Linked DNA regions of Homo sapiens: regions 2, 3 and 4 are each linked to region 1. Evidence: fine-mapped expression QTL. A gene starts in region 1. Each other region holds a variant in brackets. All regions are shown on one strand. Distances are between the middles of the regions. Region 1 holds the start of RMI2 (RecQ mediated genome instability 2). Region 2 overlaps LOC105371082 (a long non-coding RNA gene). Region 3 has its middle 15 kb from the start of TVP23A. Region 4 holds the start of LOC124903805 (small nucleolar RNA U13).

The links.
Region 2: its variant is fine-mapped to the expression of RMI2 in blood mononuclear cells (TOPMed, PIP above 0.99). The same link has a PIP of 0.9 or more in sun-exposed skin.
Region 3: its variant is fine-mapped to the expression of RMI2 in substantia nigra (GTEx, PIP above 0.99).
Region 4: its variant is fine-mapped to the expression of RMI2 in iPS cells (HipSci, PIP 0.91).

Annotation. Positions count from the first base shown.
Region 1 is chr16:11,340,852-11,348,955 of GRCh38, reverse strand. It overlaps RMI2 (RecQ mediated genome instability 2), which reads right to left and starts at 3,497. Exons shown (of 2, transcript NM_152308.3): 1 at 3,190-3,497. The coding sequence starts at 3,484. All of the region lies in intron 1 of LOC105371082 (a long non-coding RNA gene), which reads right to left. It overlaps LOC105371083 (a long non-coding RNA gene), which reads left to right and starts at 3,744. Exons shown (of 2, transcript NR_135174.1): 1 at 3,744-3,843; 2 at 6,533-7,147. RefSeq lists silencers at 3,169-3,248, 3,269-3,428.
Region 2 is chr16:11,321,004-11,329,107 of GRCh38, reverse strand. All of the region lies in intron 1 of LOC105371082 (a long non-coding RNA gene), which reads right to left. Among named protein-coding and RNA genes, the nearest start is that of MIR548H2, 19 kb to the right of the region's middle. RefSeq lists enhancers at 1-424, 483-532, 1,423-1,482, 1,543-1,612, 1,703-1,762 and 2 more. The variant G/A (reference allele first, on the strand shown) is at 3,947.
Region 3 is chr16:10,829,402-10,837,505 of GRCh38, reverse strand. No RefSeq gene overlaps it. Among named protein-coding and RNA genes, the nearest start is that of TVP23A, 15 kb to the right of the region's middle. RefSeq lists an enhancer at 3,176-3,305. The variant G/A (reference allele first, on the strand shown) is at 3,391.
Region 4 is chr16:11,286,525-11,294,628 of GRCh38, reverse strand. The region is part of intron 1 of LOC105371082 (a long non-coding RNA gene); the gene reads right to left. LOC124903805 (small nucleolar RNA U13) reads right to left here and starts at 1,419; the gene lies at 1,316-1,419. RefSeq lists enhancers at 7,824-7,973, 7,521-8,021, 8,022-8,104. The variant A/G (reference allele first, on the strand shown) is at 4,967.

The DNA of each region.
Region 1 (8,104 bases):
GCCAATGAGGCTCATCAGGATAGAGCCCTCCTACCTTCCACCACTGCCCCAGGCTCCCCAAAGGCACGCGGCTCTATCCCCTTCAAGCCTTTGCACAGGCTGCTCCATGGAGCTGCACAATCTCCTGCCACTGCACACAGACAGAGGGTGCCCAAGTGTCCCAGTTTTAACACTGAAAGTCCCACGTCCCAGGACCCTCTCAGTCCCAGGCAACCCAGGAGGGTTGGTCCTTACAGATAACTCCAATGCATCCTTCAGGGCTGCCTCTTCCAGGAAGCCTTCCCTGAGCCCTCAAACCTAGATCAGCTGTCCCTCCTCTGCGCCACCTCACTCTTGCCTGCAATGTTACTTTGTGTTTTAGTGGCCCGCTTACCTCCCTGCCTCCCTGATGGCAGTGACTCAATTTTGTCAAGCTGGACTCAGTATTAATTAACAAGAAGAAATGACATGGCCCCTGCCAGCTGGCATTCAGGCCAGTGGGTATGTCAGACAGGTTCACCAATGCCCATGGGTTCAAACACTTATTTACTAGATGCCAGGCTTATGCCAGGGCTGAGACCAGATAGGAGACTGCCCCAGCCTGCCTGCAAGGTGCTTTGCCTGCAAACCAACACACCAAGCAGCATGGGTTACTTGCTGGGCCAAGGCTAAGGCCAAGGGTTGGCAAACTTTTTCTGTAAAGGGCGAGACAAATATTTTGGGCTTTTCCCGCCATAGGGTCTCTGTCCCAGATAAAATTCTAGCTGGGGTGGGACAGCGGCCCGAGACATTCTGTAAATTACCAATGTATTCCAATAAAACTTAACTTATGAACACTGATGCTTGAATTTCATATACTTTTCACATATCACGATTTTCTTTTCAACCATTTAAAAATGTGAAATCCTGCCAGGTGCAATGACTCACACCTGCAGTCCCAGCACTTTGGGAGGCCAAGGTGGCCAGGAGCTCCAGACCAACCAGTCTAGCCAACATGTTGAAACCCCATCTCTACTAGAACTACAAAAATTAGCCGGGTGTGGTGGTGCACACCTGTAATCCCAGCTACTCGGGAGGCTGAGGCATGAGAATCGCTTGAACCCAGGAGGTGGAGGTTGCAGCAAGCCATGACTGCGTCACTGTACTCCAGCCTGAGAGACAGAGCGAGATTCTGTCTCAAAAATAATAATAGTAATACATAAAAATTTTAAAAGCATTTTTAGTTCGCAGGACACATGAAAAGAGGAGGCCTGTAGTTTGCTGACCCTGTCCTAGACCAACGCTGCGGCTGAGGGCAGGCAGACAGAGGGAAGGCTGATGGGTAAGGCAGTGGGAAGACGGAACAGGAGCATGTGGCAGTAAACGAGTCCTGATATTTTGCATCCTCACTGTGAGCCAGGTGCAGTACTAAGGCAGTTGTTTACTTATTGAATCCACACAACACGCAGGAATGATTAGCTCCTTTTTACAAAATAGTACAAGTCCAGAAAAGTTAACAAGAGTGCTCCAGGCAGCTCAGTTGGGAAGGGGTGGAACCAGAAATTCGACCTAAGCCTTTCCGAGTCCACAGCAGCTCAGGCCAGACCACAGCCCTATCTGCCTCTAGTTAGACTCCAAGACTGAGCAGGAAGGGCCCTTAGGAATGAAGTGATCTTGGCCTGATTTCCCAGGAGAGGGAGCTGAGGTGAGGGAAGGCCCATGGAGCCTCAGAGCTCCTCAGCTTAGACCTCACATCCTCTAGAAGCCTCCCCGGGCCACTCAGCACCTTGCACATCCTCATGGCTCCCCAAAGATCAGCGATCCTCTGCGACACTTGCTCACTGCCTGTCTCCCAGCAGACTCTATCTAGGTCTCGGCTGCAGCCCAACACTGCACATGAGGGGCTGATGTACAACACGTGCTCAACTGACATCCCAGGGAACAAGTGAGATGGATGCCCATTGCCTATCACTCAAGACTATTGGTTCTTGGAGCACTTATGTGTCAGGAACTGGGCCAGATGCTGAGGATACAGTTGTCAGGACCACACAGCTCTGGCCCTCCAGTAGCTTGGGCTGGCCCAGTGGTTCTCAAAGTATGGCCCCCAAACCAGGCGTGGTGGTACAGGCCTGTAGTCCCAGCTACCCAAGGAGGCTGACGCAGGAGGATTGCTTGAGCTCAGGGCCAGCCTGGGCAACACGGTGAGTCCCCTATCTCAAATAAATAAAACATTTAAAAAGTCGAAAGTATGGTCCCCAGACCAGCAGCATCAGCATCACCTGGGAGCTGGTTAGAAATGCAAATTTCCAGCCCCACCTGGACCTCCTGACTCACAAACCCTGAGGGTGGAGCCCCAGCCATCCCAGCTTTACCAAGCCCTCCAGGAGAGACTGATGCTGGCTCAAGTTTGAGCATCAGTGGTTTAAGAGAGGAAGCAGGCAGGGCGCAGCGGCTCATGTCTGTAATCCCAGCACTTTGGGAGGCCGAGATGAGCAGATCACTTGAGGCCAGGAGTTCGAGACCAGCCTGGCCAACATGGCAAAACCCAGTCTCTGCTAAAAAATACAAAAATTAGCCGGGTGTGGTGGCACATGCCTGTAATCCCAGCTACTCGGGAGGCTGAAGCATGAGAATCGCTTGAATTCGGGAGGTGGAGGCTGCAGTAAGCTGAGGTCGCGCCACTGCACCCCATCCTGGGCGACAGAGTGAGACTCCGTCTCAAAAAAAAAAAAAAAAAAAAAAGAGAGGAGGCAAACATGAGTGAGCTACAGCCCAAGACAGTTCAATTAAGGAGAAGTACAGGAGGGTCTCCCGTTCCTAGGGGCTAGGGAGGACTTCCCTGAGAAAGGCACATTTGAGCTGAGACGTTAAGGATGAGCAGAAGTTTCCCAGGACAGTATTTCCCAAAACAAGGATATCAACTGGGAGAGGGGGCTTGTGACAAACGAAGGTGCCGGAGTCCCTCCCCAGAAGATTCCCACTAGGGGTGGGAGAGTCCCAGGAATCTGTATTTGTAAAAGGGACGGCAGGTGATGCTTATCATCAGATCAACTTCACCAAGGAGGGACCGGAGCAAGGGTACCCAAGCGGGGACCCGCAGGGGCAGAGGCCCGGAGGAGGGCCAGACCCGCCCCGCCCCCGTTCGAGTGTCAACAACAAGATCGAATCTGGCCTCGGCAACTTCTCGGCGGGCAGCAGGGAAGAGGGCGCCCGGTAAGGCCCGGGCATTACCTGGGACTAGACAGGGCCGCCCGCGCGGCACCCGCTCCAGGCCGCGGACCGAGAAGTCCCCGCTCGGGTCCCTCAGCCGAGCCTCGCCGCGGTCCGCCATCACTACCCTGCCCTGCATCCACACGGCCGCCAGGTCCAGCGGCCCGCGGCCCGCCGCCGCCCGTGACAGCCGCCACGCGCCCGGGCCGCCCTCCGCGTCGCGCCGCAGCTGCTCCGCCAGCACCTTGAGTGGCGGCGACCTCGGAAGCCGCACCCCCGCGGGGCCGCCTGAGAACGAGTCCGCAGCCGCCGCCATTCCGCCTCGCCGCACCCTTCCGCCCCGCCTCCGCTTTCCCGCCAACTTTGAGAAGCAGCGGGGCCCGGCCCTCAGCCACCAATCAGGAGCGCGCTGGCAGAGCCGGCCAATGGTCGACGTCAGAAGGCGGGACCGCCGGGCGAAGAGGCCCTCTCTAGCAGCCAGGAGTGCGCATGCGTAGATAAAAGTAAATAAACGCCCTCAAGTTAGGAATGAACGGAGGAAATGGGTTAAACGAGAATAAATAATTGAAGGCAGAGAGGTAAAGAACTTCCTCTTTCAACGCATCTCAAAATTTGGCGTGGATGCAGATCACCTACAGAGTATGATTATTCATCTTTACATTGCCTTGTTTTGAGGTTAGTAAATACTGAAACGAATTAAGAGTCCGTGTTTATTGGGAGTGAGCAAGAATCCAGTCAGGAGATAAGGCTGGGGAGGGAGACGGGGAGAGCTGGCAAACTTGCCTTTTCTTTTATTATTATTTTCAGTTATATTTTAATAGCATCAAATAATTTTAAGGTTAATAAAATATATTGCTATTTTTCAGACAAGAAATGCACATTTATTGTAAAAAAAATAGGGGAAAAATGTAGAACAAGAAAATAATTGTAAAAGCCGCTTATAGATACCCACTGTTAATTTTGGGGTATATTAGCCTTTAGGCTTTAAAATATGTGTGTGTATTTTTTTTGAGACAGGGTCTCACTCTGTTGCCCAGGATGGAGTGCAGTGGCACAGTGACGGCTCACTACAACGTTCACCTCCCGGGCATAGGTGATTCTCCTACCTCAGCCTCCCAAGTATCTCGGACTACAGGCGTGCACCACCACGTCCAGCTAATTTTTGTATTTTTTGTAGAGACAGGGTCTTACCATGTTGCCCAAGGTGGTCTGGAACTCCTGGGATCACGCAATCCTGCCTCCTTGGCCTCCCAAAGTGCTGGGATTACAGGCGTGAGCCACCATGCCTGGCCTATTACTGATATACAAATAGTGTTTTGTATATTGTTTTCACTTAATAATGAACATCTTTCTGTATCAGCAAATATCCATCTGCTTCCTCTTGAATGACTGCATAATACTCGATTTGTCTTATCACATATTAAACCAATATCCTACAGTTGGACATTAAGGCTATTTCCAATTTTTCACTTTATAAATATATCCACTGTGGACCTACTTAAAAGATAAATCTTTTTTATTTATTTATTTATTTATTTTTTTGAGACGGAGTCTCACTCTGTCACCCAGGCTGGAGTGCAGTGGCGCCATCTGGGCTCACTACAAGCTCCGCCTCCCAGGTTCCCGCCATTCTCCTGCCTCAGCCTCCCGAGTAGCTGAGACTACAGGTGCCTGCCACCACGCCCAGCTAATTTTTTGTACTTTGTTTTAGTAGAGACGAGGTTTCACCGTGTTAGCCAGGATGGTCTCGATCTCCTGACCTCGTGATCCACCCGTAAAAGCTAAATCTTTTTGTGCATCCTTCAAATAAAATTCCCAGGAATCTCTCCCTAAAAATTGGATGTCCCCAGTCAGCAAAGTCCACAGATCCTAAATCAGGCAATCCTTAAAGTCAAGGTCAGTTCTTAAGAGAAACTTTGAGTTCCCAGGGCCTCCTGCAGTACCAGGCATTCAGAGAGTATTCAGCAAGAGCTTGATTTTTTTTTTTTTTTTTTTTTGAGACGGAGTCTCGCTGTGTCACCCAGGCAGGAGTGCAGTTGTGCCATCTCAGCTCACTGCAACCTCCGCCTCCCAGGTTCAAGTGATTCTCCTGCCTCAGCCTCCTGAGTAGCTGGGACTACAGGTACACGCCACCCGCCTGGCTAATTTTTGTATTTTTTAGTAGAGACGGGGTTTCGTCATACTGGCCAGGCTAGTCTCAAACTCCTGACCTCGTGATCTGCCCGCTCAGCCTCCCAAAGTGCTGGGATTACAGGCGTCAGCCACCGCACCCGGCCAAGAGCTTCATTTTTATAAAATTGAGCCAGGTCCTATTGTAAGAACTTTGTAGGAAGTATCCCATGTACCCCCACAGACCCTGAAAAGACTGTTCCACACAGGTGAGGAAACTGAGGCTTAAGGAAGCTAGAGGGCTGGCCCATAGACTCTCAGTAGCCTCTATGAGGTTTTGGCCTCTACACCTAATATGGTTTGGCTGTGTCCCCACCCAAATCTCATGTTGAATTGTACTTCCCATAATCCCCACATATCGTGGGAAGGACCCCGTGGTAGGTAATTGAATCATGGGGGCGGATACTCCCATGCTGTTCTCGTGATAGTGAGTGAGTTCTCACAAGATCTGATGGTTTTATAAGGTGCTTTTCCCCCTTTGCTCGGCACTACTTCTTCCTGCTGCCACATAAAGAAGGACGTTTGCTTCCCTTTCTGCCATGATTGTAAGTTTCCTGAGGCCTCCCAGCCCTGCGGAACTGGAGTTAATTAAACCTCTTTCCTTTATAAATTACCCAGTCTTGGACAGTTCTTTATAGCAGTGTGAGAACAGACTAATACAACACCTCAACCCTGACCTATGAAGTAACCAGGCTCCTAGGCTGAGAAAGGAGCAGGAACATTAACCAAGAGAGAATCCAACCCGTTCATGCCTGGTGGGTCCTCACTGACCTTCCCCCGAGGTACCTTAAGGACAGAGAAGTGACGGAGAAGGGAGTTAGCGTGAAGGGAGAAGCCCCCAGGCTTCTTGTATGAGCCTGGGAATCCCCCATCATTCCCTTGGCCTCCAGATTCCCTGCACCTGCTCCCACAAGCCCAACACCATGTTGCTGGCAGAGTGATCTTTTCAAAACACAAGTCTTAGCATGTCAGCACCGGGTTTATAACACCTTGATGGTGTAATCCACACATCTGGCATGTGAGCATTCCAGGCAGAGGGAACTGCACATGGAGGGGCCAGACAGGGGAGACAAAGCAAGAAGCATGTAGCAAACTGCCAGTAGTTAAGGATGGCTGGGACACAGAGTAGAAATGGAGGACTGGGGATAGATGAGTCTGGCTCTACATAACCTCATGTCTTATCCCCATTTTACAGATGATGAAACTGAGGTTCAAGCCAATGACAAGCCTGAAGCCACATGGCTAGTGAGTGGCAGAGTCAGAACTCAAACCCAAATCCACCTGACCCCAAACTTCATGTATCTTGAACTACAGGCTCCATCTCACTGTTCACACTCTCACCCACCTCCACCCATCAAAGGTGCCTCTAGACCTTTGCTTGTGTTGTTTGTTCTCTGCCTGACATGCCTCCCCCTCAGTCGCTCTCAGTTGAAACCTGGCTTAGTCATCAAGTGCCTGCTCAGCAGCAAGACCTCTTCTCTTCACAGAGCCTTTGTTGAGCCCCACCACTGGAATTAACCTCTTCCTTCCAGACCAGTTTGGTGGTGCCCCTAATCCACAGTTTCCCAACCTCAGCCCTACTGACACTGGGGCTGGATAATCTTTGTCGTGGGGGCTGTCGTGTGCACTGCAGGATATGGAGCAGTACCCCTGCTTTCCACCCACGAGATGCCATGGCACCCTCCTCAAGTTGCAACAACCAAAATATGTCTTCAGACATTGCCACTGTCCCCTAGGGTACTAAATCACCTCTATGGAGAACCACTGTCCTAAGCTACAATACTCACTGCCCTCTGTTTTGAGCCATAAATAGTTGTGTCTGTGTCTATCTTACCAGTAAAGCCTGGGTTCTCAAACTAAGTTGTCAGCAGCAGACAGACAGGTAACCCTGGTGTAGCAGGGGCAAACTGGCCTTCTGATGTCCCGGCAACAGGGGTCCATCACACTCAGCCGGTGGTTGTCGTGCAGGACTGTGGGCCCATTGTTGCTAGATCTGATTTTTCAAGACATTTTCTTTTTTTCGTTTGTTTTTGTTTTGTTTTAGATGGAGTCTAACTCTGTTGCCCAGGCTGTAGTGCAATGGCACGATCTCAACTCACCACAACTTCCACCTCCCAGGTTTAAGTGATTCTCCTGCCTCAGCCTTACAAGTAGCTGGGATTACAGGTGCCCGCCACCACGCCCGGCCAATTTTGTGTATTTTTAGTAGAGATGGGGTTTCACCATGTTGGCCAGGCTAGTCTCGAACTCCCTACCTCAGATGATCCACCTGCCTTGGCCTCCCAAAGTGCTGGGATTACGGGCGTGAGCCACCGCGCCCAGCTCAAGACATTTTCATGTATAATTTCCATGTTTAAAAAAAAAATGCTGGCAAACAATTCAATTCTGAAACAAAGGAACAAAAACAAACCATGTGCCCCAGAAAGTCATCCATGGACTGACTCTGGCCCGTGGGCTTCCAATCTGCAAACTCTCTCTAGAACGTGACCTCTGCTTCAGGCACCAAGGCAGCCTGCATGTTCACTAACGTGCAGGTCCTTAAATCTCCTGCAAAATAGCCAAGGGGCTGTAGTGTTCCACCAGCTCCAAGAGTTGCAAAATCAGCATTTTAAATTACAGTCATGAGCAGACAAGTGGGGTCTGTTGACACATGTTGGGTAAGCCTCCCCTCTAGGGAGGATTATCCCCCCTCCCCCACACCACAATCCATCACCCTCACACTCAGGCCTGAAGCAACCCCCTGTGCCAGCCTCCCCGAGCTCCAGCT
Region 2 (8,104 bases), 20 kb after region 1:
CTGAGCAGTGCGCTGAATCCAAACGCCTGATTTCACAGGGAAGGAAGGAAAAGCGGGGTACATGAGACGTTGAAATGCACCCCCCAGGGCAGTAGGGGCATTTTTTTGAGTGAGTTTGGGATGGGGTTAGGTGGGAGGCAGGGGGATGGACAAAATGAACACCTGCCAAAGCCCCAAAGCAGTTTCTCCAACCCAGAATGCCCTGACCACCAGTGAGGGGTAGTTTCCCAACTGTCCTGGTATGAGGTTTTCTGGGGGGCCTGACCTTCATTCGAAGTTCAATGAAGCACACAGCGCCCCTGCATCAGAGATTGCTTCTGAGGGACTCAAACCTCAGCCTTGCAAAACAGCGACACTTGAGTGAACCCAGCTGGAGACAAAGGAAGTGTGAGTCAGCCCAAGAATTTCTTTTAAAAGGCCGAGTGAAGGAGGCCACAGCTGCTGAACTGGAAGACAGAATTTGCATGAGCCTGGGGCTAGGCTCTGGGCACCAACCTCCGGATGTCCTCAGGGATCTGTGAGCAGAGAGGCCTGGCTGCAAAGGGTCTGGAGGACGGCCCTTCTGCTAAGGTGTCCGCTCCCAAGGCAGAGGGCTTGGGGGAGCTGGAGGAGGCTGGGTTCCAGGAGGGGTGGCCAGGTAAGTCCTTGGGCCAGTAGGGAAGAAGTCCAACTGTGTACAAACGTTACCTCTGAGCCACACCACTACCCTGCCAGGAGGTTTGATGTGGTCCCATTTTACAGAGGGGAAGACTGAGTCTGATTTCTTCACTCAACAAGTGCTCACTGAATGCCTGGGATGCAGCGGTGAACAAAACCAACAAAAGACCCTGCTTTTATGGAGTTTATAATCTGGTGAAGGATGGGGAGAGAGCAAGAGACAATTTCGGGTGCTAAGCACATGCAGATGAAGAAAATAAACCAGGAGGGGTGGGGAGAGGGGCTTATCTGCACAGGCTCCCTCAGCTGAGACCTGAATGACAGAAGGGGCTGGTGGGCTGGGGAAGGGCCACTCCCACCAGAGGGAATGGCGAATGCTAAGGCCCTGCAGCGGGAGCGACCCTGTGTGTATGAGGAACAGAAAGGCCAGTATGGGTGCGCAGTGATGGGGGAGCAGTCAGTGATGCAGTCAAGAGGTCGGTGAGGCAAGATCAGGTAGAGACTCACAGGCCACTTAAAGGAATTTGGATTTTGCTTTAAATGTACCAGGAATGCGCATTTTTGAGGGGAGGGGTGGGGAGAGACAGAGAGAGGAGGCTGGGCACAGTGGCTCACATCTGTAATCTCAGCACTTTAGGATGCCAAAGTGGGAGGATCACTTGAGGTCAGGAAACCAGCCTGGCCAACATGTCAAAACCCCGTCTCTACCAAAAATACAAAAATTAGCCGGGCGTGGTAGTGGGTGGCCTATAAACCCATCTACTTGAGAGGCTGGGGCAGGAGAATCACTTGAGCCCGGGAGGTGGTTGCACTCCAGCCTGCGCAACAGAGGGAGATTCCATCTCAAAAAAAAAAAAAGAGAGAGAGAAAGAGAAAGAGAGAGACATGACCTGATTTTCGTTTTCAGTAGACGCCCCTGGCCGCCGCGTGGAGACTGGGCTGTGGGGGCAGAGGAGTGGAGAGACTAGCCAGGAGGCTGCAGCTGCGGTTTCACTCTACTCCCCACGGCCCGATGAGGGGAGACAAAGACAGAACTCAAGGATGGACTTGGTTTGGGACTTGAGCGACTGGGTCCATGCAGGTGTCCTTGCCTGAGGCAAGGATGGTTTGAGCCAGGGCACCCAGCCGGAGCTGGCTAGACTCCCTTTCTCCCGTGCCGCCCACCCCACAGAAGGCCCGGAGCGTTCATGCTGGCATTCAGGGACCTCCACACCCCTCCCTCCTCTTGCCTCTCCATTTTGACCTCACGCTGCTCCCCATGGCCACAGAGCTCTTGTCTCTCTCTCCTGACATGCCATGCTCAGTCCCAGCTCCAGACCTTTGCTCACGCTGCTCCTGCCTGAGGGCCCTTCCTCCTCCCTTGGCCTGAGTGGAGGCCTGAGAAGGGCTTTATAGAGCAGTGGCTCTCAAGCTAGCACCTGCCTGGATTTGAATTCCAGCACGACCACCTCCTAGCATGTGATCCTAAGCACGTTCCTTAACAGGACTCAATTTCTTCATCTGCCAAGTAAGAGTGAAAATATAAGTGCTGACCATGTGGGGTAGTTGCAGGATTAAAGAAGAAGCACTCATTCGTTTCACTCTGGGAACAAGAGAAATGTCAACCTGGTTAGCCAGTGTTACTTCCTAGTGGCACAGAAATGGCATGAGGGACTGGGCACGGGGGCCCACGCCTGTAATCCCAGCACTTTGGGAGGCTGAGGTGGGAGGATTACTTGAGCTCAGGAATTCGAGACCAGCCTGGGCAACACAGGGAAACCCTGTTTCTAGAAAAAATTAAAAAATTAGCCAGGTGTGGTGGTGCACACCTGTGGTCCCAGCTACTCTGGAGGCTGAGGTGGGAGGATCACTTGAGCCTGAGAGGTTGAAGCTGCAGTAAGTGGTGATTGCACCACTGCACTCCACCTGGGCAACACAGCAAGACCCTGTCTCAAAAAATAAAATATAAAATAAAAAATTTTTTAAAGCCTGGAGAAGCAACCGCTCTTTACTATCGCATATGGCTATATGGAAAGGGAAAAGGCTCTGGCCCACCGGGAGGGCTGTCTCCTTCATGGCCAAGTCTCCAGAGCCTCCCAGTGTCTACCCACTGGACAGAGGAACGGCCACAAGCACGCAATCATCCCTGCCCCCTGCAAGGACTTCCTACTCAGCTTTTACAGGAAGGGACTCGAAGCCAAGAGTGACACAGTGGATACACCATGGGTGGTTCCTTCCCAAGTCTTTCTGGCCAGCAGGGCCCTGGTGACATCTGAGATACTGGGTAGAGACTCATGTTTCGCTTGAAATGCAACAGGGACTCTTTGGAGGGTTTTCAGAGAGACAGAGGAGAGGCGTGATCTGATTTTCACCTTCAGTAGAATGAAAGTGAACCCACATTTCCCAGGGCAGCTCTACCCTGGCCAGTCCCAGTAATGTGACTTCCCTCAGACTCCCATGGGTGGCTTCATGCCGCAGATGCCAGGGATGGTGGGGCCTGCGGCCAGCTGGGGGCCGGGTGTCCTGCCTTCACCTACATCCCCTCTACACCCTGCAACCAGAGGCTTGAAAAGGGGAAGCCATAAGTCAGATCAAGCCTAGGCTGTGGTGCCCACTGCCACTGCTGTGGGATGTCTGCTGGAAGATGAGACCATGAGGTTTACAGGAATTGGAGCCTCTGACTAGCACTGAATGTGAAAGCAAAACTCACACGCATGCACACTCAGGCTATTGCAGACACAAGCAGACACATGGCGGCACATTCACTCCCATACACATAAGCATATATACACGCACATACACACACATGCATGTGTGTGCATGACTGCATACACAGGTGTGCATACACTCATCCACTCATGCATACACTCTGAGGCGCAGGCACACATACGCATGCACACAGACACAAAGGCTCCCAGACCCCTCTCACGTAGTCTGCCCACTTGCAACCGTAGGCTTGCTCTCCCTGGACCTCAGACCCACTCACATTCCCAGCTCCTGCCAAGAGATACACCCATTTTCCACCAGTGGAAACACACACACTCACACACACCCAAGAGCCCAGGACCATGGCCTCCAAGCAGCCCTGCACACACAAGAGAGCTGCTTGTACATGGGCACTGTCCCACAAGCCTGCCAGACCGCATGGTTGTGCACACATGCACACAAGCGCACACCAATATCCCTTCTCTCTCTTTCTCTCTCTGAGTTCACAGAGGTCAGCCTCAGAAACACAGAGAACACCTTGCTCAGGCCACTTTGACTGCAGCCAGTGGCACTTTCCGGGCCCCTTGCTGCCCCAGCCTTACCC[G/A]GCATCAAAGTCTACACTCCTGGATTTCACTGGAGTGTGCCCTCGGCCTGGAACACCCTTCTGCCTGCTCTTCCCCCTGTCCCAACATGCCAAATCGCCAGCTCTCCCCTGCCCATCCAACCAGGAAGCTCCCAGCAGTTACAGGGCACTAAAGTGTGGAGGTCCTGGGCCAGCTTGTGCTCCTCCATAAAAGTCTTAACCTCTCTGGACCTCAGAATCCTCATTACTAAAATGAAGTTCATTATTAGCATCAGACAAACCTTATTTCCTTGAGAAGGGTTTCATGTCCAGCCAAGCACATAGTAGGGGCTCAGGAAAAAAGCTCATTAAAAGAATAACAATGGGCCTGGCATGGTGGCTCACACGTGTAATCCCAGCATTTTGGAAGACCAAGGAGGGAGGACTGCTTGAGCCCGGGAGTTCAAGATCAGCCTGGGCAACATAGTGAGACTCTGTCTCTGTAAATAAAATAAAGTAAAATAAAATAGGCCGGGCACAGTGGCTCACACCTGTAATCCCAGCCCTTTGGGAGGCCAAGGCGGGTGGATCCCTTGAGGTCATGAGTCTGAGACCAGGCTGGCCAACATGGTAAAACTCTATCTCTACCAAAAACACAAAAAATAGCTGGGCATGGTGGTGGGTGCTACTTGGGAGGCTGAGGCGCGAAAATTGCTCAAACCCACAACAGGGGGGTTGCAGTGAGCCGAGATCATGCCATTGCACTCCAGCGTGGGTGACAGAGCGAGACTCTGGCTCAAAAAATAATAATAAAATAAAATAATTTGAAATTTTAAATGCTCAACATACCATGTTTGTAATCCCAGCACTCTGGGAGGCCGAAGTGGGGGTACTGCTTGAGCCCAGGAGTTGAGACCAGCTTTAACAACATAGCAAGACCTCATCTATACAAATAATAATAACAAACTTAGTTGGGTGTGGTGGCATGAGCCTGTGGTTCCAGCTACTTGGGAGGCTGGGTGGGAGAATTGCTTGAGCCTGGGCAGTCAAGGCTGCAGTGAACCATGATTGCGTCACTGCATTCCAGCCTGGGCAACACAGCAAGACCCCATCTCCATAGATTAGATAGATAGATAGATAGATAGATAGATAGATAGATTAGATAGATAGACAGACAGACAGACAGGTAATAAACCAATGACAATGACGTCCACAACAGACTGAGACCCTGCCATGTTTAAAGAACCCTGTGAACCCTCCCAGCAAACCTAGCAGGTGACAGGGCTCCCATCTCCCAGAAGAAACAGGCCCAGAGGGCAACGTCTTCTCCAAGGTCAGTGGGGTCTGCAGCAGAGCTCATGCCTCTTGATCCCAGCCCAGTGCATCAGGCGAGGGAGGCCGCTCCAGGCATAAACCTGGCGGGGCCTGCCCAATGCAGTTCTGGAAGGCCGCCGGCCCACCGCACTCCCCACAGGTACTGAGGGGTCCCTGGCCAGCTGGTGTCAGGGACCAGTGAGCAGGGGACCCAGGAGCTGCATGGTGGGCACAGAAGTGAAGAGACACAGGCCTAGAGAGGGGAGGAGTTTTACCCAGGATGTCAGTTTCCCGAGGCCACAAGCAACAAGTCATGAACTCAGTGGCTTAAAACAATAGAACTTGATTCTCTTACAGTTCTGGAGGCCAGAAGTCTGAAGTCAAGGTTTCAGCAGGGCCCTGCTTCCTCCAGAAGATGGAAGGGAGGCCCCTTCCTTGCTTCTTCCAGCTTCTGGTGGCTCCAGGCATTCCTTGGCTTGGAACTGTGTGATTCCAGCCTCCACCTCCATCTGCACAGGGCCTCCTCGCCTCCGTGTCTGTGTCCAAAATCTCTCTCTGCCTCTCTCTTCCAGGGACACCTCACATGGGATTTGGGGTCCACCCATGTTCTCGTTTCCAGATCCTCAGATCCTAAATTTAATGACATCTGCAAAGACCCATCTTCTAAATAAGGTCACTGTCACAGGTTCTGGGGGGGTTAGAACGTGGATTTATCTCTTTGGGGACACTTTTAACCCACTACACCTGGAAAGCAAGCAGCAGTGCCAGGCACAGCTCTCCCCTCGTCCCAGCCTTGATCTGGGATCTCATTAAGAAGACCAGGGCTGGGCCAACAGAGAGCCGGGAGCCTCCTGGCCTGGCCTGGAATCCTGGCCTTGCCTGTTACTTGCTGTGGGACCTCAGGCAAATAACTCAGCCTCTCTGTGCCTGTCTCTTCACCTGTAAAATGGGGATGACAGTTCTTACCTCATGAGGGAAATTAAATGAGTTGATGTAAAGCATCAGAACAGTGGCTGCCTGGAACCTAGAAAGCTCTCAACAAAAATTTGATAGATCAATACAGAAAATGGTGTCGGGGCTGGGCGTGGTGGCTCACGCCTGTAATCCTAGCATTTAGGGAGGCCAAGGCAAGTGGATCATCTGAGGTCAGGAGTTCAAGACCAGCCTGGCCAACATGGTGAAACCCCATCTCTACTAAAAATACAAAAAATTATCCGGGCATGGTGGCGGGCACCTGGAATCCCAGCTACTCCAGAGGCTGAGGCAGGAGAATTGCTTGAACCTGGGAGGCGGAGGCTGCAGCCAGCCAAGTCACACCATTTACTCCATCCTAGGCAACAAGAATGAAACTCCATCTCAAAAAAAAAAAAAAAAAAAAAACCAAAAAAAAACAAAGGGAAAATCATGTCTGGACACCCCGGACCCTCAGTAAGTGCTAACACTGCCTGAGGGAACTGGCCATCTTCCGGAAAATTCCTCACCAAGCATCTCTCTGGATTCCCCTCCTCACATTTTTGGCCTCCTGGAGGGAGACAGTGGAGGTCACCATCTTGTCAGATGAGAACACAGCCCTGGAAGTGGGGGAGCCCCAGACCTGGTGTCCTAGCCCCAATCGAAGGTCTCATGTGATGGGTCCCAGAATGGGTTTGCTCCCTGACATCTTCAAAGGAAAAAGAGAAACCAGAACAAGTGAATAGGTTTTTCATAAAGCAGAAGCCCATCTGGGGCATAGGAGAGCAGAGAGTGGTGGAATGCATGTACGTGTGCATGTAGGTGTGTATGCATGTGCGTATGTATGTGTATACGTGTACGCGTATAAGCATGTGTGTATGTATGCATATGTACATGTGCATATGCATGTGCATGTGTATGTATGTGTATGCATGTATGTGTATGCATGTAAACGTGTATGCATGTATGTGTATACAACTATGTGTGCATGCATTTGTGTATGCATGTATGTGTGCATGCATGTGCGTATACATGTATGAGTTTATACATGTGTATGTTTATGCATGTATATGCATATGCATGTGTATGTGTAGCATGTATGTGTATATGCATGTGTGTATGCATGTCTGTGTATGCATGCATGTGTATATGCATGCATGTGTGCGTGCATGTGTATATGCAGGCGTGTATGCATGTAAGTGTATGTACGTGTATGTATGTGTATGTATGCATGTATATATGCATGTATGTGTATGTGCATTAGGTGTGTGTGTTTGCACATGTGTATGCACATATGTATGTTTGCATGTGTGTATTTTTTTCTTTTAGAGATGAGGGCTCGCTGTGTTGTCCAGGATGGTCTTGAACTCCTAGCCTCAAGAGATCCTCCAGCCTCGGCCTCCCAAGGTGCTGGGATTACAAGCAGATCCACCCTGCTCAGCCCCCATGAGGAGCAGTTCTTGAAGGGTGGCCTGGGGCCAGCAGCACTGGCACCACCTGGGGACAGGTGAGGAATGACCATTCTCAGGCCCACCCCGGCTACTGGAGCTCCAGGTGGGTGCTGCAGGTGGCACTGGTGCCTACTGATGTTTGAGGACCACTGGCCTTAGGGATGCAAAGTACAGATGGGGGAGCCGGCCCCTGAGGACTTGAATCCCAGATCTGCCACCTCACAGTTGCATGGCTACTTCCTGTCCCCGGGCATGCATCTCTCAATGAGTTCTTAAGCATCCAGAGCAGCACTTGGCATTTCAGGGACCAGCTTCCATCTGACGATAGGAGCTAACACACGTGCACCAGCTAATTATCTTTTCTTTTAGGAAGGGATGAAAACCATAGATAGTATTTGATTTCTTTGCAACTCCATGTTTGGCGAATTTTTTAAATTGGTAGTTAACTCTACCAATCCCTCCATACCGCAGTCCCCAACCTTTT
Region 3 (8,104 bases), 510 kb after region 1:
ACTCACTCACTCACTATCAGAAGGACAGCACGCAGGGGATGCTGTTCATGAGCACCCATTCACGAGAAACTGCCCCCCTGATCCAATCACCTCCCACCAAGCCCCACCTCCAACATTGGGGATTACAGTTCAACATGAAATTTGGGTGGGACACAAATCCAAATCATATCACAGCTGGACTTAAGTCCTAGCTCTGCCACTTACCAGTGGGACCTTGGTCAAGTTGCTTAATCTCTCTGGGCCCTGGGAGAAGCAGCACAGTGCAAAGTAGCACTTGTGTTTTGGAGTGTCTGCCCATGTAGCTCTTACACTGGGGCACCTATGGAAACTGCCATTTTTTATGCTTAGTATCTTAATACTGAAGTCCCTTTGTCTTGGTCCATTTCATGTTGCTATAAAGGAATAACTGATGCTGGGTAATTTACAAAGAAAAGAGGTTTATTTGGCTCATGATTCTGCTGGCTGGAAGTTCAAGACTGGGCATCCAGTGAGGGCCTCAGACTGCTTCCACTTGTGGTGGGAGGTGAAGAGAAGTCCACGTGTGCAGAGATCACATGGACAGAGAAGAAGCAAGAGTAGGGGCAGGTGCCAGGCTCTTTTTAACAACCAGCTCTCTTGGAAACTAATAGAACAAGAACTCACCCCATGGGAGGGAGAGATCCATCCCCATGCCCCATGCCCTAAACACCTCCCATTTGGCCCCACCTCCAACATTGGGGATCAAATTTCAACATGAGGTTTGTAGGGAACAAATATCCAAGCCATAGCACCCTTTTCCCACTGGCAGTCCTGAGAGCCTCTCTTCATGCTTAGTTTCTACTCCTCTGTACCCTGGGTAAGTGCTTATCTCTTTAGGGGGCTTCCCCATGCATGAGTCATGGAGCCAGTGTCTTAAGCCAAAAGATCTCAAACACGACACCACAGTGGACAAATATCCATCTACCCATTTTTTGCATGATTCAAAATAAGGTAAGATATAGGTATGGCTGCTGTGACAAAGGCCAGGCAGAGACAAATGTATTTCTTTCTTGGGTAACAGTCCAAGTATCAACTATTCAGAACAGATAAGGGGGCTCTATAGGGCAGGGTCTCAGCTTCCCTCTCTTTCTTGGTTTCCCAATCTTTATTCATGGCTCCCACCTCATGATTCAACATGGCTGCTCCAGCTCCTACCATCACAACTGCATTCTATCAGAGGGAAAATATAATCCCAAAGTGGCACAACTTACTTTATTAGCTTTACTTTACATTACCATACTCCTTGCAGGGGAGGCCAAGAAGGGTGATCTTTAGCTGATAGGACCATGAGCCAGCCAAAAATCCTCATCTGATGTAAGAAGATATTAGGGTCAGCTGGTAGTTTTGCCCTACATAACAGAACAGATAAAAGTTTAATTTTATTCATGTGGTTGGATGAATACTCAGACCAAGGGGTGTGAGGAAAAGGCCCCCAAATCCCCAACAGAGTAATGGGCAAGAGGCTGGAGTGAGACAGAAGCCTGTTTGGAAAAGCTGTCAATGTTTTCTTTTGTTCAGTCAACAAACAGGCATTGAGCATCTCCACTGTGTCTGACACTATAGCAGACACTGGGTGTGTGCAGTGAGGAAAGTGGGTGAAAAAGCTAGGTCGTTCCCAGCTGACATGGTGATCAATTTCTTGCATGCCTTTAGTATCGTGCCTCTGTTTACTGAGCACCTAATATGTGCCAGGCCTGGGTAGGGGATAATGAAGCGGAAACAAATCCAGCCTGACCCCAAAAGACTCTCACAATGAATAGGCACTGCCCACAAGCCACATGGGAAAGCCCAGCTCCCTCTGTTAGAATCACACCTGCCTAGGTTGGGGTGGGGGTGAGGAAAGGAGGAAGGATGGCCTGATCTTCATCAGCATCAGTTGCCTGAGCCGTGGTTCCAATCTCACCCCATGCTGTCCGTCTGTGGCCCTTTCCCCTCCTCTGATGTTCAAGGTCTAGAGCAGGATTCATGGCCCTCTCCACAAGGCAGTGGGGATCTCAAGAGACTTGGACCTCTAGAAGTGGCCAGGGCAGCGGTGTGGCTGGCTGGTCTGTTATCCAGGTGGCATGGGGAACACGTAGAGTGACCCACTCATCCTGGTTTGCTTGGACTATCTCAGTTTTAGCACTGCAGAGCCTGCCTCCTGAGAATCCCCTTGGTCTGGGGAAACTAGGAGAGTTGGCCACCCTAGAACCTTGGATTCTGTCTGGGTCCTCCCCTACTCCCCAAATTCTAAACCAGTGGTTCTCCACCCTGGCTGCACATTGGCACCTCCTGGGCAGTTTTTTAAGAACGCTGCTGCCTGGGTCCCCCTGCCAGACGAATTCATTCAGAGTTCAGGGTTGAGGCTGGGTGTAGATCTTATAAAAACAAAAACAAAAACAAAAAAATCTCCCAGGGACCAGGGTGTGAGCCCCTCCTTGGGGATGGGGCTGAGTCAGGAGATGGTTGAAGGTAGATTTTTGTTTTCTAGCTCCAGTGAGAGCTGAGGAAGAGGGGAGAAGGAGCACTGGATTGGGGTTCATTGACTTATTCCATCACCCACTCATTCATTCATTCATTCATTCATTCATTCATCAATTATGTACAGGGGACCTGCTATCAGTCAGGAGCTGTCCTGGGGCTGGGGACATGGACTGGGGGAAGAGGGTGATCATGAACCTGTTTTCAAGAAGCTTACATTCGAGTTGGGGAAACACATAGTCAACAAGCAAGTCACCTGGATACTTCCAGATGAAGATGGGAAGGAACTTGATGGAGTGATGTGTTGGATGATTGGGGGTACATCAGCTCCTGAAAGTCAATGGTTGGGTGCAGCATCTGGGGGCTTCACCACTCCAGACCTTTGGCCTTGACTGTTGGGTCTTGAGGCTTCTAGAAGACAGAGACAGCCCCCAGGCAGAGTCCCAGGTGTTTGCCAGAGAGTGAGTGTCATAAGGTCCTAGTGTGGCACCAACCGTGGCTCCTCCAGAAAGTGACCTCTGAGCTGCCACCTGAAGGACATGGAAGAGCTGGCCGTGTGATGAGCATGCCAGGGCATGTGGAGGGCATGCCAGGCAAGGGTGATGGCGAGGGCATAGTCCCCAAAGCGTGTGGAGAGTGTTCCAGGTAAGGGAGATGGCAAGGGCATAGTCACCAAGGCGTGTGGAGGGTGTGCCAGGCAAGGGAGACGGCGAGGGCATAGTCCCCAAGTCAACTTTGGTGCATTCCAAGAGCAGCTACCAAGGACGGTGGGTGGTGTGGCCCGGGCTGGAGAGGAAGATAGAGTGGCAGGGGCTGAGAGTGGGGGAGAAGTCGCCAGGGCCAGGCCACGTGGCACTGAGATTCAACTGTGTAGGCAGGGAAGCCTCAAGAAAGTTTTGAGCAGGCGTCTAC[G/A]GGATCCAGTTACTGCTGGGCAACAAGCTCACTTTGCATGTGGTCTGGAGGTGGGATTGTAGGGAAGGGCACAAGATGAAAGAGGAGAGATGGTCTCACCCCCCTGGGTGGCCTTGGCCAGTCCCTTTTCTTCTCTGAGATTCAGCCACTTATCTGGAAAATGAGGCCAAGAAGTCCCACCCCATATGCTTCAGAGGGGCATTTCAGCTGTGCACAGTGGCTCATGCCTATAGTCTCAGCATTTTGGGAGGCCAAGGTGGGAGGATCACTTGAGTCCAGGAGTTTGAGACCAGCCTGGGCAGCATAGCAAGACCCTGTTTCTAAAAAAAAAAAACAAAAAAAAAACTTTTTAATTAGCTGGGCTTGGTGGCATGCACCTGTGTTGTCCCAGCCACTCGGGAGGCTAAGGCAGGAGGATGGCATGAGCCCAGGAGGTCGAGGCTGCAGTGAGCTGTGATTGTGCCACTGCACTCCAGCCTGGATAACAGAGTGAGGCTCTGTCTCTAAAAAAATAAAAAATAAAAGAAGGGTGTTTGGTGACTCCCATGAGCGGAAGTCCCCTGGCTACAGTTGGATGAAAGTCTCCTGGCTGTGGCAGAACACAGGGAGGGGCCTTGACACCACCCTTTGGGTAGAAGTGGCCATGCCTGGACCCACCAAATGCAGACTGGGGCCTTTCTCAAGTTCTCTGCTTTGTGGTTGGGTTTTTCCAAGTGAACTGAGCTAAAATTATGAATGGTGAATGCAGCGTCTCGGAGGTATAAAGGCCAAGTGAGGCTGAGAAATGAAAATCCAGTCCTCGAGGTACCTTGGCCAAGAATCCAGGTGCCGCATTTCAAGACCTGTGTTTGAATATCCTGAGCTCACTCATGGGGAGGGCTATCTGATTTGGGGGTCCTGTTTCTCCCAGGGGCTCCTCAGTCCCTCTGTAAGTGAGTTGATGCTGATAGGTATGAGGGCTCTACCACCTCCACCTGCTGACACTCCCCAAGCGCCAGCTGGGTTGGGGTGCACATGGATGGGGGTGAGTGGGCATCATCCATTCTTTTTCCTAGCAGCTCTGGTCCCAGCTGGTGTGGACTGTATGTGGAGAAAGTAAGGCAGAGAGGCCAGTGACTCATTTAGGGCCACCCTACTGGTCAATTCCCACCAAGGTAGTGGATGACAGAGGTGGAGTAAAGACTCTTTCCTCTGTGTCACCATGATGGTGGTTGGCAGGAGCCCACAGTCCCTCGGATCCTGTCACCATCTTCATTCCCACCAGGTCCTGGTGAGCTTTCACTTCCAACAGCAGCCCCTGCACCTCTTAGCTAGAGACACTCCTCATGATGTTGGAACCTGCTTTGCCTGTGTGTTTTCCTAGAGCCAATGGGGCAAGGGCAAGATGGACAGGAGAGTATAAATACCCCAGCTCCCCCCTCCCACTGGAGACTCTGAGAACCCCCTGTGGGGTGAGCCACAGTTACCTTCTGTTAAGGGTTGACTATGTCCTTCATCTCAAAATTCCTATATTGAAGTCCTAACTTCCTGTACCTTAACATGTGACCCTACTTGGGGATAGAGTCATTGCAGACATCATTAGAAAGATGAGGTCACACTGGAGTAGGGTGGATCCCTAATCCAATATGACCGGTGTCCTTATAAAAAGGGGAAATTTGGACACAGACACGCATACAGAGAGAACATCATGTGAAGATTGGATTACGCAGCCACAGCCTAGAAAATACCAGAAACTAGGAGAGATGCTGGGGACAGATCCTTCCCTAGCGCCTGCAGAGGGAGCAGGGCTCTGTAGACACATTAATCTCAGACTTCCAGGCTCCAGAACTGGGAGACAATGAATTTCTGATTTTTAAGCCACTCAGTTTTTGGTACTTTTTGATACACCTTTGAGGGCCTTTGTCTGCTGTCACACCCCTGTGTGGCCTCCCTGCCTCTCAGCCCATCTCTCCGACCCTCCCCAGAGCCCTGCCTAATCCCTAAGGTGCTCATGCACCCTCATGCAGGGTATGGTCTGCTTCTGGGGAATCCCACCTGACAGCGGGTTTTTTTTTTTTGTCGTTGTTGTTTGTTTTTGAAACAGAGTCTCGCTTTGTCGCCCAAGCTGGAGGGCAATGGCACAATCTCAGCTCACTGCAACCTCTGCCTCCCAAGTTCAAGTGATTCTGCTGCCTCAGCCTCCTCAGTAGCTGGGATTACAGGCATGTGCCACCACAACCAGCTAATTTTTATATTTTTAGTAGAGACAGGGTTTTACCATGTTGGCCAGGCTGGTCTCAAACTCCTGACCTCAGATAATCTGTGTGTCTTGGCCTCCCAAAGTGCTGGGATTACAGGCATGAGCCACCATGCCCAGGTTACAACAGTAGGTTTTCAGGAGCAATGGCAAACTCGCCAGTGGCAGAGAATGAAGTGAGCACACTGGTGTCTGGGGGTGGTGAGCTCGACTCTGCAACCCCATCTAAGGGGGGATAGCACCGCTCAGCTCCCACCACAGGGAATTCAGGCTCCATGTCACCTGAGCTTCCTTAAGAAAAAACAGAAGTACAGACTTCAAAAAAAAAGTGACATCTGATTTTTCTTTTCTTTTCTTTCCTTTCTTTTTAAGAGACAGGGTCTCACTCTATCACCCAGGCTGGAGAGCAGTGATGTGATCACAGCTCACTGCAGGCTTGAACTCCAGGGCTCAAGCGATCCCACCACAGCCTCCCAAGTAGCAGGGACTGCAGGCACAGGCCACCATGCCCCGCCTGGTTAGTATTTTTATTTTTTATAAATAGATATGAGGTCTCGCTTTGTTGCCCAGGCTGGTCTTGAACTGGCTTCAAGAGATCCTCCTGCCTTGGCCTCCCAAAGTGCTGGAATTACTGGCGTGAGCTACTACACTTGGCCCCAATTTTCCAATACTGGCCATTAACTCCATGAACGCTGCCTATTTTTTTTTTTAACTATGCAGGTCCAACCCAAACATGTCTGGAGCCCAGAGTTGACCCTTGGGCAGGCACTTTGCAACCTTGGGTTAAAGGTTTGGCAGGGACTGTGCACCCCAGTTTTGTGTGATGGGAAAAGCTATGAGCAGGGAGCAGGTGGAGACCTGATATCTACTCATGGGTCTACCACTGGTTTGCTGTATGCACCTGCTTCAAAACCTCTCTGAGCCTCAATCACCTGATCTGTAAAATGGGTATCATGCCATGCACTTTACCTCCTGGAGTGAAAATAAAGGTGGCTTGACATAATTTATTTAGCAAACACTTACTATGTGCATGCAATGTGCTGAGTATGTGATAAAACATTAACTCCTAGCCAGACCCAGGGGCTCATGCCTGTACTCCTAGCACTTTGGGAGGCTGAGGCAGGAGGATCACTTGAGTCTATTCCAGACCACCCTGGGCTGCATAGCAAGACCTTGTCTCTATGAGAAATAAAAAATTAGCTGGGTGTGGGGTGTGCACCTGTAGTCCCAGCTACTAGGGAGGCTAAGGCAGGAGGATTGCCTGAGCCCAGGAATTGGAGGCTGTAGAGACCTATGATTGCAGCACTGCACTCCAGCCTGGGTGACAGTGAGACCCCCATCTAAAAGAAAAAAGAAAAAAAACAAATTAGCTCCTGCATTCTATCCAACAGCCCTGTAGGGAAAAGAAAGAGAGATCAGACTGTTACTGTGTCTATGTAGAAAGGAAAGACATAAGAGACTCCATTTTGAAAAAGACCTGTACTTTAAACAATTGCTTTGCTGAGATGTTGTTAATTTGTAGCTTTGCCCCAGCCACTTTGCCCCAGCCACTTTGACCCAACCTGGAGCTCACAAAAACATGTGTTGTATGAAATCAAGGTTTAAGGGATCTAGGGCTGTGCAGGACCTGCCTTGTTAACAAAACGTTTACAAGCAGTATACTTGGTAAAAGTTGTTGCCATTCTCTAGTCTCAATAAACCAGGGGCACAATGCACTATGGAAAGCCACAGGGACCTCTGCCCTTGAAAGCTGGGTATTGTCCAAGGTTTCTCCCCATGTGATAGTCTGAAATACGGTCTCGTGGGATGAGAAAGACCTGACTGTCCCCCAGCCCGACACCCGTAAAGGGTCTGTGCTGAGGTGGACTAGTAAGAGAGGAAAGCCTCTAGCAGCTGAGATAGAGGAAGGCCACTGTCTCCTGCCTGCCCCTGGGAACCGAATGTCTCGGTATAAAACCTGATTGTACATTTGTTCATTTCTGAGATGAGAGAAATACCGCCCTATGGTGGGAGGCGAGACATGTTTGCAGCAATGCTGCCTTGTTATTCTTTACTCCACTGAGATGTTTGGGTGGAGAGAAACATAAATCTGGCTTACGTGCACGTCCAGTCATAGTACCTTCCCTTGAACTTCATTATGACATAGATTCTATTGCTCACATGTTTATTGCTGATCTTCTCCTTATTATCACCCTGCCCTCCTACTGCATTCCTTTTTGCTGAAATAATGAAGATAATAATCGATAAAAACTGAGGGAACTCAGAGACCGGTGCCGGTGCCCGGTGCAGGTCCTTGGTATGCTGAGCGCGGGTCCCCTGGGCCCACTGTTATTTCTCTATACTTTGTCTCTGTGTCTTATTTCTTTTCTCAGTCTCTTGTCCCATCCGACTAGAAATACCCACAGGTGTGGAGGGGCAGGCCACCCCTTCACGGCCCTTAAAACAGGTCATGATTCTCATTTCACACTGAAGGAAACT
Region 4 (8,104 bases), 54 kb after region 1:
CAGCCTGGGCAGCAGAGCGAGACCCTGTCTCAAAAAAAAAAAAAAAAAAAATTTAAATAAACGAATTAAACCCAAATGAATGTTTCCTTTTAATGCTTTTAAAAGCAAAAAGCCACAATATATACATTGTCAGCCCCATGCCAGGGTACAGTGAGGCTGGCTCTAGCTTTGTGGTTATACCAGCAGCACTGCGATCATCTGTTTCGTATGTAGCCTCTGCTCATCTATGTGAGATCCTTTTCTTTTTCTTTTCTTTTTTTTTTTGAGACAGAGTCTTGCTCTATCACCCAGGCTGGAGTGCAGTGGCACAATTTCAGCTCACTGCAACCTCCACCTCCTGGGTTCAAGTGATTCTCCCGCCTCAGCCTCCTGAGTTGCTGGAACTGCAGGCGCCCACCACCACGCCCAGCTCATTTTTGTATTTTTAGTAGAGACAGGGTTTCACCATATTGGCCAGGTTGGTCTTGAACGCCTGACCTTGTGATCCACCTGCCTCGGCCTCCCAAAGCTATGTGAGTTTTTTTTGGGCTGTGCTGACCACAATAGAGCCTCGAGTCACATGTGGCCACTGACTTAAAACGTGGCTTGTTTGAACTGAGGTGCACTGTAAGGATGAAATGCACCCTGGATTTCGAAGACTAGGTATGAAGAGAAGTATGTAAAGTAGCCCAACCATTCTATATTGACCACTTGAAGTGATGATATTTTGGATATACTGAGTTAAATAAAACATTAAAACACCATTTAAATGACATAGAGCTCACATTTGTTTCTTGCATTATATTTCTTTCTTTCTCTACTCTTTCTCTTTCTTTCTTGAGATATAGTCTCACTCTGTTGCCCAGGCTGGAGTGCAGTGGTGCAATTATAACTCATTGCATCCTTGAACTCCTGGGCTGAAGTGATCCTCTCACCTCAGCCTCCCAAGTAGCTGGGACTGCAGGAGCATCACACCACACCTGGCTTTTTTTGGTCGGGGGAGGAGGGTAGAGACGGGATCTCACTATTTTGCCCAGGCTGGTCTCAAATTCCTAGCCTCAAGCAATCCTCCTGCCCTGGCCTTTCACAGCACTGGGATTACAGGCATGAGCCACCTTACCTGCCTGGCTTGCATTATCTTTCTATTTACTGACCCTGATCAACAGGATAGATTTATGCAAGCAGAATCAAGCAGAACTGCTCGGAGCAATACTACCCATGGAGATGTTGCTGAGATATGTGGTTAAGTGAACAAAAGTTGCAGAAGTGTGGTGTGATCCATTTATTCATCAAACAACTCCCTCCTCAGTCTCGTCTATTTTTCTTTTTTTTTTCACATCAGACGGGTAACATGCCAACCTTGTAACAAGGTTTGAGGGAGGTGCATCTTACACACCCTCGTGAACACCAGACCATCGTGCTTGGGAGCCACAAAACCACCTCATCTGTCATTCTCTGTTGTTGCACATTCCCACCAGCAAACAATCCTGCTCTGCTGTCCCGCTGGAAACCAAACCCCAACTAAACCAAATATTCTCCCGGCCCAGTTACGCTGCCAGCCACATTCCCGTTTTTCTGTTCTCTTTGGCAGTGAAAGTCCTTGAAAGAGTGGCCAGTGTTCCTTCTAAACCCCACCCCCAGGCTTGGCACGGTGGCTCACGCCTGTAATCCCAGCACTTTGGGAGGCCAAAGAAGGTGGATCACTGAGGTCAGGAGTTGGAGACCAGCCTGGCCAACATGGTGAAACCCTGTCTCTACTAAAAATATAAAAATTAGCCAGGCGTGGTGGCAGGCACCTGTAGTTGCAGCTACTCTGGAGGCTGAGGCAGGTGAATCACTTGAACCCGGGAGGCGGAGGTTGCAGTCAGCCAAGATTGCACCACTGCACTCCAGCCTGGGCGAAGAGCGAGACTCCATCTCAAAAAAAAAAAAAATAATAATAATAATTAAAATCAAATAAATAAATCCCACTCCCACCAGGTTTGCCTGGCCCCCACTGCTACACACAAACTGTTCTTCTGAAGGTCGCCAGTAACTGCCACATTGCCATGTCCATGGGTGACCTCTGAGTCGACCTCTGATGTGATTGACACAGCTGCTGCTTACCCCCTCCCCAGTGCCCTTTGTCCACCGGGCTTCCTGGACCCAGGTCTCTTGGTTCCTCCTACCTTCCTAGCTGCTCCTCCTCAGCTCCTGATTTTTTTTTTTTTTTTTTTTGGATACAGGGTCTTGCTCTGTCACCCAGGATGGAGTGCAGTGGCACGACCTCAGCTCACTGCAGCCTCAATCTCCTGGGCTCAAGTGATTCCCTGACTCAGCCTCCTGAGTAGCTGGGACTACAGTGTGCACCACCACACCTGGCTAATTTCTGTATTTTCTGTAGAGATGGGGTCTTGCCATGTTGGCCAGGCTGGTCTCAAACTCTTGAGTTCTTGAATTTTTTTTTTTCTTTTTTTGAGATGGAGTTTCACTCTGTCATCCAGGCTGGAGTTCTGTGCGTGATTTCAGCTCACTGCAACTTCTGCCTCCTGGGTTCAAGCGAGTCTCATGCCTCAGCCTCCTGAGTAGCTGGGACTACAGGTATGCACCACCATGCCTGGCTAATTTCTGTATTTTTAATAGAGACGCGGTTTCACCATGTTGGCCAGGCTGGTCTTGAACTCCTGACCTCAAGTGATCCGCCCAAATGAGCTTCCCAAAGTGCTGGGATTACAGGCATGAGCCACTGCACCCAGCCAGCTCCTGACTTCTTAATGCTTGGTCCTGGGCACTCTCTTCCTCTCCATCATCCCCTTCGTGCTTGAGGTAGGCAAAATAATGGCCCCAAAGATGCTCATGTGTGAATCCCTGGAACCTGTCAATAAGCTGCCTTATGTAGCAAAAGGGACTATCCAGATATGATTAAATGAAGGACCTTGAGATGGGGAGATTGTCCTGAATTACCCGGGTAGGTCCAGTGTAATCACAAGAAACCTCATAAGGGAAAGACAGAGGCAGGAGAGCCAGAGTCAGAGAGAGATTCGAAGAGGCTATACTGCTGGCTTTGAAGACAAGGGAAGGGGCCATGAGCCAAGGAGGAGGCCTCTAGAAACATGAGGAAAAACAAAAGGCGGAGAACAGATTCTCCCCCAGAGGCTCTGGAAAGGAATGTCATCCTGCTGGTACTTTGATTTTAGCGCCTTAAGACCATTTTGAAATTCTGACATGCAGAACTGTGAGATAATAGGACAGGCATAGCAGCTCATACCAGTAATCCTAGCACTTGGAGAGGCCGAGGCGGGAGGATCGCTTGAGGCTAGGAATTTGAGACCAGCCTAGGCAACACAGGGAGACCTCTCTCTACAAAAAGTAAGAAAAAAAGTAGCTGGACACGGAGCCAGGCTTCCATTCCAGCTACTCAAGCAGGCTGAGGTAGGATCACTTGAGCCTAGGAAGTAAAGGGTGCAATGAGCCGTGATCATGCCACTGCATTCCAGCCTGGGTGACAGAGTTGGGGGCGAAAAACCATAATGAACTCGTGCTGTTTTAAGTTACAAAGTTTATGGTACTTTGTTACAGCAGCAGCAAAAACTAAATCAGTGATCCTGGCCAGTCTCCTGATTGTAAACACTGACAATGCCCAAATATATCACTTCCAGGCTAAATGTCACACTCAGATACTCAGCTGCCTACTTACTGGACACCTCTACTGAGATGTCTGAATTCTGGACCCTCCTCCCAAGCCTTCTCCATACATTAGAGTTGGTGGCAATGCTATCCTTTGAGATGCTTGAGCCCAAAGTCTCGAAACCAGCCTTAACTCTTCTGTCCCTATCGCTCCCCTCATCCAGGCTGCTGGTGAGTCCTGCTGGCCCCATCTTTAACACACAACCAGATTCCGACCACTCCTCACCATCCTCCTCTACCACCCTGGTGTGAGCCTCCACAGCCTTGGGCCTGTGTGACAGCAACAGCCTCCCTGCCTCCACATCTGCCCCTACATTCTTCTCAGCACAGGAGCACAGGGGTCCTTAAGACAAAGAGTGTCACTCTTACGATCCCCATTTCATTTGGTGTAAAAGTCGAATCCTCAGGGAGGCTGACAAGGCCACCTATAATGTGGTGCCCCCCTCCCACCTCTGTGACTTCATCTCCTACCAACCCCCACCTCTCTCTGCTCCAGCCATGCTGGCCTTGCTGTTCCCTGGGCACAGCAGAAGGGCTGTGCATCCCCACCCCAGGGTTCCCCTTGTTCCCCCCTTGTCCCCACCCCATCATGTTCCCCTTGCCTGGAGCACTCTTCCCTGATGTCCTCATGACTAACTCCCTCACTGCCTTCAAAATCTGCTTAAATGTCACCTTCTCAACAAGGCCTGCCCTGAGCACCCTGAATTGCCACTTGTCCCAGTTACCTCCATCAGGCCCAAGGGTTCTCACTGTGCCCTACTTTTTCTGTGTTCCTTTCAATATAAAGTATCGTTTATCCATCTATCATTCTTATTGTTTTGCTCATCTCCTGCACTAGAACATAACTCCACGAGGGCGGGGATCTTTGTTTTGTTCATGGTGTTGAAAACAGTGCCCAGCATAGAGGGCATTCAATAAATAAATGAATGACTGGAAAGGTATCAGGGGTGAGGTGGGGTTTTTTGTTGTTGTTTTTTGTTTTGGTTGGGGGGACAGGGTCTAGCTCTGTCACCCAGGCTGGAGTGCAGTGGCATGATCATGGCTCACTGCAGCCTCAACTTCTCATATTAAGCAATCCTCTTGCCTCAGTCCCGAGTAGCTGGGACTACAAGCCTGCGCCACCACGCCCACCTAATTTTTGTATTTTTTGTAGAGATAGGGTTTCACCATGTTGCCCAGGCTGGTCTCGAACTCCTGGGCTCAAGTGATCCTCCTGCTTGAGCCTCTCAAAGTGCTGGGACTACAGGTGTGAGGCACCATACCCAGCCTTTAGAAAGGTTAACAATTCTAAAGCCACCATACGTGCAGAGTGAAAGGGAAC[A/G]ACTAAGTAAATGGATGGAGGATGGTAGGAGCCAGGCTTCCCACTGTTACAGATGAGCAAGGAGAGGTATTTAGAATGATCCATGTGATGACCATGGATTAGAGTTGGAGATGTTAGCATGAACAGGTTTAGCTAAAACAGTACCATAGATGGTTACCTATAGAAATATAGATTTGTGTACATACAGGTTAGTACACACACAGATTTCCTTGCTCTGTCCGCTAAGACGGCCAAGAAGCAACAGCACCCTACAGCCCTGAGCACATCTTGCACCCTGATCTTGGTTTCTAATACCATTCACCAATGAAAGGAACCAGGGCTCCTTGCAGAAACAGCTGATTCTAGGTCTAAGACAGGAAACAGACAAGATGAGCCTGGAGCATCTTGTGGTGCCAGAAAGTTAAGGAAGTGCTCAAAATCTCACAATGATGGAGTGTGTCACAGGGACATGGGAGATAACTGAAAGGCATCCAGTAGCCAATGCTGGAACAATTTGAGCAACAAAATACAGTAGAATTGGATTACACCCAAAGTATACAGGATCCATGGATCCATACTGATATAAATGAATGAATAAATAAATGGAGAAGAGACAAATCTCCAGGGTAGAAAATTCCAATAAGTGATGAAGATGCCCTGCCCTGAAGGAGGTGGAGCTTAACTCCCCATTCCTTAGGCATGGGCTGCACAGAGTGACCTCCTTCCAAAGAGCACAGTATCAAATGCAGGGGAAAACAGTAGCTCTGCTATAAAGAAACCTGACAGGCACTGCCTCAGCCAGGCATCAAGTTAGTCCTCCTGAGAGCACGTCCCCTTTGTAGGACGTGAGGAAAAGGGCACTCACCTCCTGGCTCTTCCTCCCAGAACACATAACCCCAGTCTAATCATGAGAAAAGTATCAGTCAAATCCCAATGGAAGCCAAGGACAGCGGCTCATGCCTATAATCCCAACACTTTGGAGGCCGAGGTAGGCAGATCACAAAGTCAGGAGTTTAAGACCAGCCTGGCCAACATGGTAAAACCCCATCTCTACTAAAAATACAAAAATTAGCCAGGCATGGTGGTGCTTGCCTGTAATCTAAGCTACTCAGGAGGCTGAGGCAGGAGAATCACCTGAACCTGGGAGGGGGAGGTTGCAGTGAGCTGAGATCATGCCATTGCATTCTAGCCTAGGCGACAAAGCGGGACTCCATTTCAAAAAAAAGAAAACAACTCAATTGAGTGACACTCTACAAAATACCTGACCAAATCAACAACCTAACAATGCATCCTAAAGAACTAGAAAAGGGCAATCCAAATCCAAAATTAGTAGAAAATAAGAAATAAAGATCAAAGCAGAAATTAATGAAATTGAAACAAAATAATACAAAAGATCAACGAAACAAAAAGTTGGTTTTTTGAAAAGATAAAATTGTCAAACCTTTAGCCAGACTAACTAAGAAAAAAAGAGAGAAGACCTAAAGATATAAAATCAGAGATGAAAAAGGCCAGGCGCGGTGGCTCACGCCTGTAATCCCAGCGCTTTGGGAGGCCGAGGTGGGCAGATCACGAGGTCAGGAGATCAAGATCGTCCTGGCTAACACAGTGAAACCCCATCTCTACTAAAAATACAAAAAATTAGCCGGGCGTGGTGGCGGGTGCCTGTAGTCCCAGCTACTCGGGAGGCTGAGGCAGGAGAATGGCATGAACCCGGGAGGTGGAGCTTGCAGTGAGCTGAGATCACGCCACTGCACTCCACCCTGGGCTACAAAGCGAGACTCCGTCTCAAAAAAAAAAAAAAAAAAGAAAAGAAAAGAAAAAGAAGGCATTACAACAGATACTGCAGAAATTCAAAGCACCATTAGTGTGGCTACTATGAGCAACTATATGCCAATAAACTGGAAAATCTGGAGAAATGGATCAATTCATGGACACAGACAACCTACTAAAATTGAATCATGAAGAAATCCAAAATGTGAACAGACCAATAACAAGTAATGAGATCGAAGCCTTAATAAAAAGTCTCCCAGGAAAGAAAAGCCCAGAACCTGGTGGCTTTACTGCTGAATTCTACCAAACATCTAAAAAAAAACTACCAATCCTACTCAATCAAACTATTCCAAAAATAGAGGAAGAGGGAATATTCACAAAATATCTGACAAGTACTCCTTAAAATTGTCAGTGTGACCGGCTGGGTGCAGTGGCTCATGCCTGTAATCCCAGAACTTTGGGAGGCCGAGGCGAGTGGATCACCTGAGGTCAGGAGTTCGAAACCAGCCTGGCCAACATGGAGAAACCCCAACTCTACTAAAAATACAAAATTAGCTGGGCGTGGTGGCGCATGCCTGTAATCCCAGCTACTGGGGAGGCTGACGTAGGAGAATCGCTTGAACCTGGGAGGCGGAGGTTGCAGTGAGCCAAGATTGTGCCACTGCACTCCAGCCTGGGCAACAAGAACAAAACTCCATCTCAAACAAAACAAAACAAAACAACTGTCAACATGATCAAAGACAGGAATGTCACAGCCCAGAGGAGCCTAAAGGGAGACGGGATCCTGGAACAGGAAAACATTGAGGAAAAACTAAAGCAATCTGAGGAAAGTATAGACTTTGGTTAATAATAATGCACCACTACTGGTTAAAGAATTGTGAAATGCACTATCCTCACATAAGATGTTAATAGTAGCAGAAAGTGGGTATGGCACCCTGAACTGGATCTTGGAACAGAAAATGAGCATTAGTAGAAAAGCTGGTGAAATTCAAATAAAATCTAGAGCTTGCTTGGTAAGTACTAATGTGCCAAAGTTGGTGTTTTAATTGTGACAAATGTGCCCCAGTGATGTAAAATGTTAACAATGGGGGAGACTGGGAGACTGGGTGAGAGGTATATGGAAATCCCCTTACTAACTCTGCAACTTTTTTTTTTTTCCCTTTTGAGACAGAGTCTCGCTCTGTCGCCCAGGCTGGAGTGCAGTGGTGCGATCTCGGCTCACTGCAAGCTCCGCCTCCCGGGTTCACGCCATTCTCCTGCCTCAGCCTCCCGAGTAGCTGGGACTACAGGCGCCCGCCACCGCACCTGGCTAATTTTTTGTATTTTTAGTAGAGACGGGGTTTAACCGTGGTCTCGATCTCCTGATCTCGTGATCTGCCTGCCTCGGCC